4 linked regions of the Homo sapiens genome follow. The protein of the gene in region 1 purifies or fractionates together with the protein of each later gene. This does not show direct contact. Each region holds a gene or a part of one and is shown on either strand. Other genes may lie near its edges.

Region 1 (3,500 bases):
GCTCACCTCCTGCTGTGTGGCCTGGTACCCAGCAGGCCACGTACTGGAACTGGTCTAAGGTTGTTTGATATCTACTTTTGAGGAAGAAGTGTTAAAATGTCCCTCTATATTTATTTCAAAACAATTCATTGTCTACATGTTGGTAATTGTTGAAACTAGGTGATAGGCACATGATAATTCATTATAATATTTTGTGTACATTTTCATACATTAAAATTTTTCTTTTAAAAAAGGTGTTTAAAATTATTAAATATGTCAGTCACAACTTTATTTGATAATCTGTTTTAAAAGTTAATCTTAAAATGTTCTTATGCTCCAGTTATGAAAAAAAAATTACTTTGTAGGCATTTCTGTCCATAACTGTTGTCTGGCAGTATACCTTCGTAACAACCTGCATGTGGACTCCCAGAACCTACAATAAAAGTTGAAAAAAAGCAAAACAAAATATATTGTGTTGTCCTATTAACATTATAGGAACAAAATCTATGGCCAATTACTTTTCTAATGACTCTCCATATCCTTCTCTTTTGGCTCTTGTTCTTTTGAGGATTATTTTTTGTGGGGGTGTCTTTCCTAGATTTTCTGATCTCTATTAAGTCAGTATTTATAAATTAAGAATCTTGCTTTCCCTGTATATAATTATTAGGTCATAATATTAATAATAGTAATTTTAGATTATCTTCCATCTATTACAGGTGGTTATTGGAGATCATGATGGGGTAGTTATGTGCTTTGGCATGAAGAAAGGAGAAGCAGCAGTAAGTATAGCTTTGTGAAGGGGAAAAATGGTTTTCTAAAAGAGAATGCACTATTTATTGAATAATACTAGGTTAAAAATTTCCTAAAATACAGGTAATGGAAAATGGGTTCTGAGGTAAGTAGTTATGTGAGATATGAGTCTGCGGGTAGCACAAAAGTAATTTGCTAGCTAGTTGTAAGGCACCTTTGGCATCCTGTGGTCGTGGGTTACTTTTCTATGCTGTGTAATATATTACCCCAAATTTAGGGCCTTAACACAACACACATTTATTATCTAACAGTTTCTGTAGCACAGGAGTTTGTGCTCAAGGTTTCACACAGCTGCAATTTAGATGTCAGCTGAGCTGTGTTCCTTTCTAGAGTGTGGGGTCTTATTCCAAGCTCATGTGGTTGTTTGCAGAATTCAGTTCCTTGCTATTATAGGACTGAGGTCCCCACTTTATTAACATCTGTAAACCAGGGGCTGCTCTCAATTCCTTGAGGTCTCTGCAATTTCTTGCTCTGTGGTTCTCTTACAGTCCTTCTCACAACATGGTAATCTAATTCATCAAAGCCAGCAGGAAATTTCTGTAGTCTGCTAAGAAAGAATCTTATGTAGCATAATGTAATCATGGAAGCAACTAACCCACAACCTTTTCCACTTAATTTAACCTAATCAAGGAAGTTATTACTATTACATTATCATATTTACAGATCATAATTAGAAACTTAGAATGATGAGTCTGAGATGTGAATTCTAGTATTCATTATATATTATATGGAATTTCCAGAAAGATGAAGAGAATAAAAACTACCAGAAACTCAGTGTTTCCATTATTCATATTCTCCCAGATATCTTATTCTCTGTATATAAAGTCATGGGGAGGAAGTGGAGGAGAAGAAGCTGGTGCAAATAATAAAATGGAAAATAACCACAAAAAAATTAATGAAATGAATATTGTTTTCAGTTAAATAGATATATGATTATAGGTATTAAGTCATACATTCACATTTTCAGTAAATTCTATAGTCCTTTAACTATTAAAATTTATAAAAATTGTAAAGAAGCCAGGAAAGATTAGTTTTAAAAGATGATTGAAGTGTAAAAACATGTTCATTGGACCTCATTAAAGAATTTGCCAAATGGACTTCCCTGTTCGTAGGAGTATTGTTAATCCAATGCCTCTAAAACTTCAGTAGGCATAGGAACCAGCTGGGGAATCTTGTTAAAATACAGATTCTCATTCAGTTGATCTGCTGCATTTTAAATAAATTTAGTGATGCTAACATTGCTGCTTAGTGAACTGTACTTTGAATTACAAGGATTTAGATTTCAATGACATCATTCAAATATGTGTGGGAATATATATTTAAAAGTTAAGTATAGCAAAAAACCTGAAGACCTGCTGAAGTATATAGATTATTATCTAAAATTATTTCTATATAGTGGAACTATAATATTTTGCAAATTTAACATCATAACATTTTCTATTGTAAAGGAAAAAATGCTCACAATAAAGTAATTTGTGTACTTTTTTCCTGAATGATTTTTTTCAGGCAGTGTTCAAGACTTTACCCGGGCCGAAGATTGCAAGGCTGGAACTGGGAGGGGTTATCAACACACCTCAGGAGAAAATTTTTATTGCTGCAGCATCTGAGATTAGAGGCTTCACAAAAAGAGGAAAACAGTTCCTCTCCTTTGAAACAAACCTCACTGAAAGCATTAAAGCTATGTATGTCTTTTGTTCTCTTTTGTATTTTTACATACTTATTTATAATATTTTGGATAGATGTGAGGCAACTAAGTATCATATCTTAATAGGCTTTCTGGAAAATAAAATTAACTAAAGGTATTTTATTAGTCAGAAACTAAATTTGACCTACAATCAATATTAAATTGGTTGTTGAAATTTTTTTAAAGAACTTTATAGTATTTATACAATCATTTTTGACAACTTGGTTCAGTTTGATTCATGATCAAGGTATCAAAAAAATTGAAAATAAATCTAGATATTTAGCTTTATGTTCCTTGGCTATTTTTGATAGTTCTGGTTTTCAGGTAGCATCATTATGTTAAAAGGCTGGCTGTCAAAGTTAGTGATTACCAATAGGGTATAATTTCAGGTATATCAGGTAAGACTCTAAGTGAAATATAGCTCCCTAAATGGCTGCCTGATATGTGAGATTTTGCAATTCAGATTTGAGTTTTTGAATCACAGGGAGCTGAAAAGGGCTTTAAAATTCATCTAATTCATTATTTCTTATATTTGCTACTTAGAAGAATCCCTTGGGCCACTTAAACAATTCCTTGTCCTACCTCATACCTGCCGAATCAAAATAACCAGGAGTAGGTTTTATTTTTATTTTTTAAGTTCTTCCTTTGAATCTAGTGCAGCCAAGTTATATAATCAGCCAGACTCTTAGGCTAGAAACAACTGATTCAGCCCAAAGTTTTGTATAATGCACAGCACATCTCCTGATGTTTGGGATGTAAAACATTGGCTTGGTGAAATTAGATTAAAATTAAACCATGATAAGTGGAAATATGTAATTTCAAATGGTTTAACAAGAATAGTAACACTTTTGAAATACACTTGTATATAGACATGGCCAATGATAATTATGGAATACTGAAAGTAATGTGTTAATAGCATAACTCTACATTCGGACAGTTATATGGATAGTAGTGTGAGAAAGATAGAGAGTTTCTCAGTAACAGTCTCTTCAAGTGGTTTCTTAAATGTTTTTACTAGAGTGGCAAA
Region 2 (3,500 bases), on another chromosome or scaffold:
TGATGTGTGAGGGAAACTCAAGTTCATGTTGGACATTTTTATCCTGGACAAGTTATCTCAGCTCTCCAGGCCTTGGTTTTCTCATCTGTACAAGGGGTATAATAATAAGTGTCGTAAGGATTAAATGACTGGATGCAGGGAAGGTCATGGTATAAATAAATGGTTGGGTGTGGTGGCATGGGCTTGTAGTCCCAGCTACTCAGGAGGCTGAGGCAGGAGGATTGCCTGAGCCCAGGAGTTCCAGGGTACAGTCAGCTATGATCACGCCACTGCACTCCAGCCTGGGCAACAGAGTGAGATCCTGTCTCAATCAGCCTTCCATCCATCCATCCACCCATCCATCTACCCACTCATCCATCCATCCACCCACCCATTCATTCATCCATCCATCCACCCACCCACCTACCCACTGCACTCATCCATCCACCCACCCACCCCACTCATCCATCCACCCACCCCACTCATCCATCCACCCACGCACTCATCCATCCACCCATCCATCCACCCACTCATCCATCCATCCACCCATCCATCCACCCATTCATTCATCCATCCATCCATCCACCCACCTACCCACTGCACTCATCCATCCACCCACCCACCCACCCACCCCACTCATCCATCCACCCACGCACTCATCCATCCACCCATCCATCCACCCACTCATCCATCCTTCCACCCACCCATTCATTCATCCATCCATCCATCCATCCATCCATCCATCCACCCACCCACCTACTCACCGCACTCATCCATCCACCCACCCCACTCATCCATCCACCCACCCACCCACCCCACTCATCCATCCACCCACCCCACTCATCCATCCACCCACGCACTCATCCACCCACACACTCATCCATCCACCCACCCCACTCATCCATCCAACCACGCACTCATCCATCCACCCACTCATCCACCCGCCCATCCATCCACCCGCCCATCCATCCACCCACCCACCCACCCATCCACCCACCCACCTACCCACCCACACACTCTCCCACCCACCCATCCACCTATCCACCCATCCATCCACCCACCCATCCACCCATCCATCCATCCACCCACCCACCAACTCATCCACCTACCCACCCACCCACTCATCCACCCACCCACCCATCCACCCATCCATCCACCCGCCCACTCATCCATCCACCCGCCCACTCATCCATCCACCCGCCCACTCATCCATCCACCCGCCCATCCATCCATCCACCCACCCATCCATCCACCTACCCACACTCCCACCCAGCCATCCACCCACCCACCCTCCCACCCATCCACCCACCCACCCTCCCACCCATCCACCCACCCACCCATCTACCCATCCGTCCGTCCATCCACCCACCCACCCATCTATCCTTCCACCCACCCACCCACCCACTCATCCATCCACCCATCCACCCACCCACTCATCCATCCACCCACCCACCCACTCTCCCACCCTCGCACCCACCCACCAACTCATCCACCCACCCACCCACTCATCCACCCACCCACCCATCCACCCATCCGTCCACCCGCCCACTCATCCATGCACCCGCCGACTCATCCATCCACCCGCCCATCCATCCATCCACCCACCCACCCACCCCCTCATCCATCCACCCACCCTCCCACCGTCCCACCCATCCACCTATCCACCCATCCACCCACCCACTCGTCTACCCATCCATCCATCCACCCACCCACCCCCCATCCATCCACCCACACACCCACCCACTCATCCATCCACCAACCCACCCACTCATCCACTCATCCATCCACCCACCCACTTATCCATCCACCCACCCACTCATCCACTCATCCATCCACCCACCCACTCATCCATCCACCCACCCATCCACCCACCCTTCCATCCACCCATCCATCCACCCACCCACCCATCCTCCCACCCTTCCACCCACCCACCCATCCACTTATCCACCCATCCACCCACCCACCCATCTACCCATCCATCTATCTGTCCATCCACCTACCCATTCATCCATCCATCCATCCACCCACCCATTCATCCATTTATCCATCCATCCATCCATCCACCCACCCATTCATCCATTTATCCATCCATCCATCCATTCACCCACCCATTCATCCATTTATCCATCCATCCATCCATCCATCCTAGCTATGTTGTAGACCTGTGCTATTCAATATGGTGGCCACCAGCCAGATGTGGCTACTGAGTCACTTGAAATGTGGTTGATCAGAACCAAGATGTGCTGTAAATGTAAAATATACTCAGGGTTCCAAAGACTTGGTCCAAAAACAAACAACAAAAACCAGTGTAAAATATCTTATGAATAATATTTTTATGTTGATTACATGTTAAAATAAGAGTGGGATATGTCTTGGGTCAATGAAATATATTACTAAATTCTTATTGTTTCTACATATGTAATGTGGCTTCTAGGAAACTTGACGGCTCATTGGGCTCACATTATACGCATTATATTTCTTTTTTTTTTCTTTTTGAGACAGCATCTTGCTCTGTGGCCCAGGCTGGAGTGCCGGGGCACAATCTCGGCTCACCACAGCCTCCGTCTCCTGGGTTCAAGTGATTCTCGTGCCTCAGCCTCCTGAGTAGCTGGGATTACAGACATGCGCCACCACGCCCAGCTAATTTTTGTATTTTTAGTAGAGGTGGGGTTTCACCATGTTGGCCAGTCTGGGCACATTGTATTTCTATCAGACAGCAGTGTTCTGCTGTAAATAATGCTCAGTAAACATTTTAGCCAGGTGTGGTAGCACATGCCTGTAGTCCCAGCTACTCAGGAGGCTGAGGTGGGAGGGTCCCTTGAACTCAGGAGTTCAAGACCAGCCTGAGCAACATAGTGAGACCCCATCTCTAAAATAAAATAAAATAAAATAAAATAAAATAAAATAAAATAAATGAATAAATAAAATAAAAAGAAAGTGGGGCCAGGTGTGGTGGCTCATGCCTGTAATCCCAGCACTTTGGGAGGCTAAGGTGGGTGGGTTGCTTGAGGTCAGGGTTTGAGACCAGCCTGGTCAACGTGGTGAAACCCCATCTCTACTAAAAATACAAAAAGTAGCCGGGCATGGTGGTGCACGCCTGTAGTCCCAGCTACTTGGGAGGCTGAAGCAGGAGAATAGCTTGAACTTGGGAAGCAGAGGTCGCAGTGAGCCGAGATGGCACCACTGCACTCCAGCCTGGGTGACAGAGCAAGATTGTCTCAAAAAAAAAAGGAAAGAAAAATAGAATAAGTTTATAGTATAAGGCAGTGGTTCTCAACTGGTGATGATTTTGACACTTAATTGACATTTGGCAGTGTCTGGGGACATTTGTGGTTGTCATTACTTGGGAGGAATGTACTACTGACGTCTAGTAAATACAGACCAGAGATTTTGCTAAACATCTCACAGTGTACAGGACAGGACAGCATCCCCTGAATACAAAGAATTTTCCAGCCCCAAGTACCAATGAACCAAGGTGGAAGAACATCGGTGTATAATAAGTGTCTGATAAATGTCAGTGT
Region 3 (4,300 bases), on another chromosome or scaffold:
CTATTTCCTACCTATAAACAGCTCAAGTGTAGTATTCACTCACTACCAACCTTCTCTCCTATCAGTCTTCAATTCACTGCAATCCAGCTTTCACCTCTATCTCTTTACTGACATTGTTTCGCAATGGTCGCCAATGTCTTCTTATACCCAATGACTTTAGTCTTCATCCTACTAAACCTCATCAACGTGTAACAGCATTGTCTACATTCCCTTGCACCAAACTCTCTTTTCCCCTACTTTTCTCCCCTAACATTGGGCTGCCACAGTTTTCTTCTTCACTTCTACCTGTTTTTAGTTTAATCATTCTTCTTCACCATTCCCTTAAATCAAGGATTCTTCAAGACCTGACCTTAGTCCACATTTCATCCCTTCTTAACATAACACTGATGTCACTTTTATGCCCCACCTTGTCTTTTTTTTTTTTTTTTTTTTTTTTTTTTTTTTTTTTTTTTTGAGACAGAGTCTTGCTCTGTTGCCAGGCTGGAGTAGAGTGGCGCAATCTGGGCTCACTGCAACCTCTGCCTCCCGGGTTCAAGTGATTCTCCTGCCTCAGCCTCCTGAGTAGCTGGGACTACAGGTGCGTGCCACCACGCCTGGCTCATTTTTTGTATTTTTAGTAGAGACAGGTTTTCACCATGTTGGCCAGAATGGTCTGGAACTCCACACCTCGTGATCCACCCGTTTTGGCCTCCCAAAGTGCTGGGATTACAGGCGTGAGCCACCGCACCTGGCCCACCTTGTCTTTTTTTAACCTTACCCCCTTTAATGTATGTAATCAGCTGTAGGTGATATCATCTGTAATCTTCTGAGGATATGTCAGGATATAAGTAAATATTTAACCACATGGTCTCTCCTGAGGAGATTCACACACTTTTAATTATTTTCTTTCTCTAGAGAACTAAATGTACCTGACCTCTCACAGAGCTTTCAGGTGGCTGCCTGCTAGACCGCTCTCTATGTCCCTGTCCCATAGATAAATCAAACTCAACATAACTAAAATGGAACTTAATCACTCCTACCAAAAGCAGGCTTCTGTAATACCCCCTAATTGCACTTTCACTCTCATCTCTTCCCTCAAATCCAGTCTGCATACAGTAGTGCCCAGAGGGATCTTTTAAAATGAAAATCACATCTATCACTTCGTGGCTTAAAACCCACCAGTACCTTCCATTTCTACTTAAAATCCAAACTCCTAAACTATGGCCTACAAAGGCCACACAGTCTGGTCCTATCTACCTCTCCCAATGTCATTTCTCAACTCTCTCCTACTTCTACAGGGCACTTTAGATACATTGGCATTTTAAATGTTCTTTAAACAAGCTCTTTCCCATCTTTGCAGTTCTTTCTGCCTGCCTTGTCTTTTCCTTGGCTAATCACAAGGCTGGTTCTTTATCATCATCAAGGTTTCAGCACAAATGTAACTCCTACAAGGGCCCAACGACCAACTAAGTTAAAGTTACTCCCAAACATCTCCCAATCATTTGTCATCCCTCTTCAAGTTTTTTCTTCATAGAATCTATCATCAAAATTGATTATTTACTTGCTTTTTATTTTCTCCCACTAGGATATAAAGTCAACCGAAGCAGGGGCCTTATCTGTCTTATATGTAACAGTATCTCTGGCATCTAAAACAGTATTAGGCAAATAGTAAATGGCACAATAAATATTTGAATGATGAAAAATAAGTAAACTGCTCCTCTTGAATTTGCAATTTGAATTAATGGTGTCTCATTGTTAGCAGCCAATATTCTAAAACTTGACTTTCCACTCCATGCCCCTGTAACAAGTCCTGTTGATTTTCTGTCTTTGGAACCTGACTCTCTCTACCTCTTTCTCTTTTTCAGGCCATAGACTCTCCAACTCCTGCAACTGTCTGGAATTTCTTCTCTCTCCAATCCATCTCTAGTATTGATGACATAGGTAACTTTCCACAAGTCACACCATACCAAGTGCTTTACATCACCTGTTTACGTACTTATCAAATGGCAATATAGATTACAGATATATATATAAACACACACGTATATATCGGGTATGTCTACTTGGTATTTTAGGGGAAAAAACGGGTGCTGATACATAGATGGAAGACATTTTCTGATTCCAATTTGGGAAAAATAGTCTATCTTTGGTCAGGTCTTTTTTTTAATAGCTTTACTGAGGCGGTTTTCTAATTTTAAATAATCAAGCATACACAACAAACAGTGTAATGACTAAGGTTCTTGGCATACCATAGGAAACCATAACCCGGCTCCAACCCACACTGCCATTCTCATCTCTACAGTCTCATTCCCGCTTGCGTTCTCATCACCCAGCACATTACGTCAGGGTATGTTTAACACTCAAAAATCCACAAGTCTGTTCTTGACATGAATGAGAATCTCATTTCTTTCAAAATGCTATAGTCTCTAGTTACAGAAGGAGCCTGATCAAAACAACCACCAAAAGTCTTCCACTCACAGCAGTTCGGAGCCGAAAAGTTGCGGAAATGAGGCCCAGCAACGGTCCCTGGCTTTGATTTGCCAAAATGCTCTGGAAGCCGCAGCGTCGGCGCCTGCCCACCACTGCTTCTTCAGGGGTTTCTTCAGTTTGACAAATTACCAGCGAGTGATATTTCTTGGTGAAAGAAAAAAATCACAACCCTAGAGGAATAAGGTGGCAGGGAGAGTGTTTTGGCCAAGATGCCCGCCACGAAACAGGAAAGCGGAGACAGCGCCAACTGTAACCACTAAGAGAAAGCGCAAACCGCACAAGACCAGTTCAAAACCAGCGCCCTCAGGGAGCCGCTTCAGAGCTCCGCAACAGGGAAGACAGGAAGTCCCGCCCCTCCACAACAGGAAGGGCCGGAAGTCCCGCCCCTCCACTCCGGAGGCTGCCCTCGCTGCGTTCCCTACGAAGGGCGGAGCAGGAATTGGTGTAGGAAGGGGACGGGTGTTTCCTTGTTCGGAATGGGGTTGGCTCCTCTTTGATTTTTTACTTCTGGTGACCCACGCAAAAGCAGTCCCGACCTGGTTGTATTAATAATAAAGGCTGTAAGGATCAGCCTTTTGAACGGTCCAGCCGAGAACTAACCACAGAGCGCGTTTTAGTGGAGTGGTACTTATTTTTAAATAAGGTAAAAAACGATTATACTTCAGTAAAGCTGTTTAGAAAAAAAAAAACTTGGCCAAAGATGGAGAACTCTTCCTAATTTGGTATCAGAAAATAGGTCGTCTATGTATCTGCACCTTTTTTCCTTATAAAGTGGCAAATAAATGTGTCTGCTATATTTATTGCCACTAAACAAGTGTTTATGGAACACTCACTGTGTGTTTAGGCATAGTGGGGATAAAGCAGGGAAGGTGGCCCAGTTCTTTGCGGGTGAGGATCAGAGCTAGAGATTAACTGGAAAGAAAGAATAAACAATCATTTATTACAGTTGTGAGTGTTTCTAAGATAAAATACAGAGGTTTGTGAGAGCATAGAGAGGCATACCTTGTTTTATTGTGCATTTTATTGTGCTTTGCAGATACTGAGTTTACTACAAATGGAAGGTTTGAGGCAACCTTGATGGAGCAAGTGTATGGGTGCCATGTTTTTCCAACATCATGTGCTCACTTTGTGTCTCTGACATATTTTGGTAATTCCCACAATATTTCAAACTTTTTCATTATTTTTGTATCTGTTAGAGTGATCTGTGTGATCACTGATCTTTGATGTCACTACTGTAATTGTTTTGGGGGACCACAGATCATGCTCATACATTATAAAATGGCGAACTGAATCTGTTACAGGTAGTTAGGCATGAGCAAGGCAGGAGAGGGCTCTCCCCTGCCACCCACCCACTAGAAATGTTGGGTGATGGTTCAGCAATTATCACATGGCCTCTCTAAAAATGAAAATTTGGCAGCGCCAGGGAAAGGCCATTTCCTGATGGCCCACACCTGTTAACATCAAAATGTTAATTGAATGCAGGCCCCAGAGAGAAGCAACTTCCTGGGCATGCCGGTTAAGAGACAAAAGTGATGAAGTATGATTTTTCTGATACACTCCACCGGAAAAAGGAAGAAAGCCTCAGATGGGCATGTGTATAAATCCATAAAATCACTGTGTGTGCTCACTTCCCAAGGGTAAAGAGGGCTCTGAGCATGCAGGGAGCCCATCCTAAGATCATGGTTAAATGCGGCACTTGACCTTCTCTCTCTCTCTCTCCTTTTCTTTTTCTTTTTTTTTTGAGACGGAGTCTCACTCTGTCGCCCAGGCTGCAGTGCAGTGGCGCGATTTCAGCTCACTGCAATCTCCGCCTCCCGGGTTCAAGCAATTC
Region 4 (3,500 bases), on another chromosome or scaffold:
CTGTATCGGCATTTTGAAACTCTTCACTTTTTCTAATGAGGCTGGAGAGTATACTAATTCCTTATTGTAATCAGTGAATTGTTTTTAAATATAATCACCCATTACAGCCACACGTATAGATTTTGCCTTTTCAACAAAATTCCTCTCTGTACACATCTTCCATTATTTAAAAACGCTACAAGTGAGCATTGGTTGGACCAAATGAGTAAAAACAAGGAAGAAAACTAAAATAATCTGTACAGTGACTACCTATAGAGCTTTTTTTCTTTCTTTTAAAAAAAATTTTAAATACAGATAGGATCTATGTTGGCCAGGTTGGTCTTGAACTCCTGGTCTTAAGCAATCCTTTTGCCTTGGCCTCCCAAAGTGCTGGGATTACAAGAGTGAGCCACCGCACCAGCCTTACTTTTTTTCTAGTTCACAAAAATGCAATCATACTAATAACATGCTTCCACAGGACAACATATGCACATTTCAACATTGTATTCTGTTCATGCATACACCACCGTTCATTCAACTAAGCAATCCCCTTGCCTTAGATTTTTAACAATGCTAAATGAAGTTTCATTAAGTAAATCTTGGTACACAGCCTTCAATGTTTCTTTAGAATGCCTGAACAATTACTAGATCAAAGGCTTTAGAGACACATTTCCAAGGATGTCTCAAAATGATTTTGCCTGTGTACATCCAAACCAGTAAAGTGTGAACCCATGTCACTGTACCTCTCTCTCAATGGTGTGTATGTTCTTTAATATTTTTGAAGCATATACTGAGTGGTGTTACTAGCAACTGTTTTTTTTTTTTTTTTTTTTTTTTGAGACGGAGTCTTGCTCTGTCGCCCAGGCTGGAGTGCAGTGGTGCAATTTCGGCTCACTGCAAGCTCTGCCTCACGGGTTCACGCCATTCTCCTGTCTCAGCCTCCTCAGTAGCTGGGATTACAGGCGTCCGCCACTATGCCCGGCTAATTTTTTTGTATTTTTTAGTAGAGACGGGGTTTCACCGTGTTAGCCAGGATGGTCTTGATCTCCTGACCTTGTGATCTGCCCACCTTGGCCTCCCAAAGTGCTGGGATTACAGGCGTGAGCCACCATGCCCGGCCCTAGCAACTGTTTTGTGCTTCCGAAATCCTGGTAATTTTTTACATTGCACTGCATGTGCAAAGCTTCACTTATGAGTTTTCTGTATGGAGAACTGCTGTGGCGGGGGGTGGTCAGGGATATGAGAAGCAAAAATGGCAACAGAAGTAATGTGCCAGATCCTTGTGTTTAATGCTCTACATAAGGCAAACGATGCAGACTTCCTTAAGAAGATGATCAGACATGAATTATAAATAACAGTGTAAGACAGACTGCCAATGATCCCCAGAGATCCCAAGTCACAGGTCAAGTAAAACCTCACTACGAGTGACTCATAACTTCTTTTTCAGATGTGCCTACAATGAACCAAAAGGGAACATTCCAGCCAGGCATACTCTTACCACCTACCTTTTCATGCGCTCCTGTTCACTAGTGTCCAAAGCTCTCAGGGTTCGGGCATAAAGGACGACAATGTCACTGTGCCTGGCTTTCTTGTTGCACTAAAGAACCCAATAGGACATAATTAGAGTGGTTCTAGGAATCTGCCTGACTTAACATGTTAATGTGTCCTTACCTATGGTCCTTACCTGGGGACATTTTCGTACTTGTCCTTTAAGCCACGTGGAAATGCACCTATACCCAAAGAGATGCCCACAGCGTAATGCTGAGAGCCGGTGGTCCCCAGCATTGGTCCACTGTTCCAGACATATTGTACAAGTGTCCCCTTCTTCCTCATCCATAGAAGCAGAAGGTAGCAGAGGCTCAGACTTCTGGGGAGATGGCTAGATGGAAAGCAGAATATATTCAAATTAGAGAAAATGTAAAATCAATCTTGAAGAAGATGTGCAACTAAGAAATTAACAGAAGTGCAAAAAAAATGATACAATCAAAAGGGCTACAGAACACTTGTAACACCTATGAATCACTTGTCATTCTTTCTAGAATGCAATGTCACAAAATATAAGCTATGAAAACTATACTACTCTTAAATCTTATAAAATTCTTGGATACTTTTTCCTTCACTCAAAGGAAGAAAAGCAGCTATCCATATAAAGAATAGCAGCTATAAAATATTTAACTCATGTGTACCAGAGGGCAAAAAAAGAAAACAAAGGATACAAATGCTTACAAGAAAACACAATGGTCAATAAGTGTTTGCTTATAATTAAAGAAATGCAAATTAAAGAGACCATTTTTCATCTATCAGACTGGTATAAATTGATGTCTGATGACACCAAGCACTGTTGTGGGTAAATGAGATATGGACATGCTTATATACTGTTGCCTTAAATGTAAAGTGGCACACATTTCTGGAGCACCATTTGGCATTATCCATGAAAATTAAAACACATATATCTTTCCTTTGGCATAGCAATCTCTCTGCTAGAGATACCTCATGGATATATAGTCATGCATTGCTTGACAATGGGAATACATTCTGAGAAATGCGTCTTTAGGCGATTTCGTCATTGAATGATCCCAGAGGTACTTAAATAAACCTAGACGGTGTAAACTATTACATACTTAGACAACAAACCTGTATAGGATGTTACTGTACCAAATACTGTAGGCAACTGTAGCACAGTGGTGGGTTTCACCATGTTGGCCGGGCTGGTCCCGAACTCCTGACCTCAAGTGATCCGCCCGCCTTGGTCTCCCAAAGTGCTGGGATTATAAGTGTGAGCCACTGCGCCCAGCCTGGTATTATCATCTAATGGGACAACCATCATACATGTGGTCTGTCATAGACTGAACTATTATGCAGCCCATGATCATAGTCACAAATATTTTCTTTTTTTTTTTTTTTTTTTTTTTTTGAGACAGACTCTCGCTCTGTCGCCCAGGCTGGAGTGTAGCGGCAGAATCTCGGCTCACTGCAAGTTCCGCCTCCTGGGTTCACACCATTCTCTTGCCTCAGCCTCCTGAGTAGCTGGGACTACAGGCGCCTGCCACCAAGCCCGATTTTGTGTATTTTTAGTAGAGACGGGGTTTCACCGTGTTAGTTAGGATGGTCTCGATCTCCTGACCTCGCGATCCGTCCGCCTTGGCCTCCCAAAGTGCAGGGATTACAGACGTGAGCCACCATGCCCAGCCAGTCACAAATATATTCTAAGATAATTATATAAGATTGTTCCAAGCAGGCCAGGTGTAGTAATCACACCTACAGTCCCAGCTTATTGGGAGGCCAAGGCAGGAGGATTCCTTGAGCTCAGGAGTTTGAAACCAGACTGGACAACATAGCAAGACCTTGTCCCTGTTAAAAATTTAAAAAATTAGCCATGTGTGGTGGCACATGCCTGCAGTCCCAAGTAGTCAGGAGGCTGAGGTAGAAGCATCACCTGAGCCCGGGATATTGAGGCTGCAGTGAGCTATGATTGTGCCACTGCACTCCAGCATGAGGGACAGAATGAGACCCTGTCTCAA

The links. Proteins that work in one complex are often made in the same cells at the same time.
Region 2: the proteins of BBS7 (region 1) and CAMSAP3 purify together in Homo sapiens (affinity purification with mass spectrometry; 2 studies listed by BioGRID and IntAct, with this or other methods). This does not show direct contact.
Region 3: the proteins of BBS7 (region 1) and C5orf34 purify together in Homo sapiens (affinity purification with mass spectrometry; 2 studies listed by BioGRID and IntAct, with this or other methods). This does not show direct contact.
Region 4: the proteins of BBS7 (region 1) and RFWD3 purify together in Homo sapiens (affinity purification with mass spectrometry; 2 studies listed by BioGRID and IntAct, with this or other methods). This does not show direct contact.

What each region holds. Positions count from the first base shown.
Region 1 is NC_000004.12:121,860,475-121,863,974, reverse strand, and holds part of BBS7 (BBSome complex member BBS7), read left to right. Parts: intron 1-695; coding exon 696-758; intron 759-2,295; coding exon 2,296-2,471; intron 2,472-3,500.
Region 2 is NC_000019.10:7,598,863-7,602,362, forward strand, and holds part of CAMSAP3 (calmodulin-regulated spectrin-associated protein 3), read left to right. Parts: intron 1-3,500. UniProt on the Homo sapiens protein: Key microtubule-organizing protein that specifically binds the minus-end of non-centrosomal microtubules and regulates their dynamics and organization.
Region 3 is NC_000005.10:43,512,349-43,516,648, forward strand, and holds the start of C5orf34 (uncharacterized protein C5orf34), read right to left. Parts: upstream 2,801-4,300; 5' UTR 2,458-2,800; exon of another isoform or gene 1,845-2,457; intron 1-1,844.
Region 4 is NC_000016.10:74,642,878-74,646,377, forward strand, and holds part of RFWD3 (E3 ubiquitin-protein ligase RFWD3), read right to left. Parts: intron 2,788-3,500; exon of another isoform or gene 2,614-2,787; intron 1,859-2,613; coding exon 1,664-1,858; intron 1,577-1,663; coding exon 1,485-1,576; intron 1-1,484. UniProt on the Homo sapiens protein: E3 ubiquitin-protein ligase required for the repair of DNA interstrand cross-links (ICL) in response to DNA damage. Plays a key role in RPA-mediated DNA damage signaling and repair.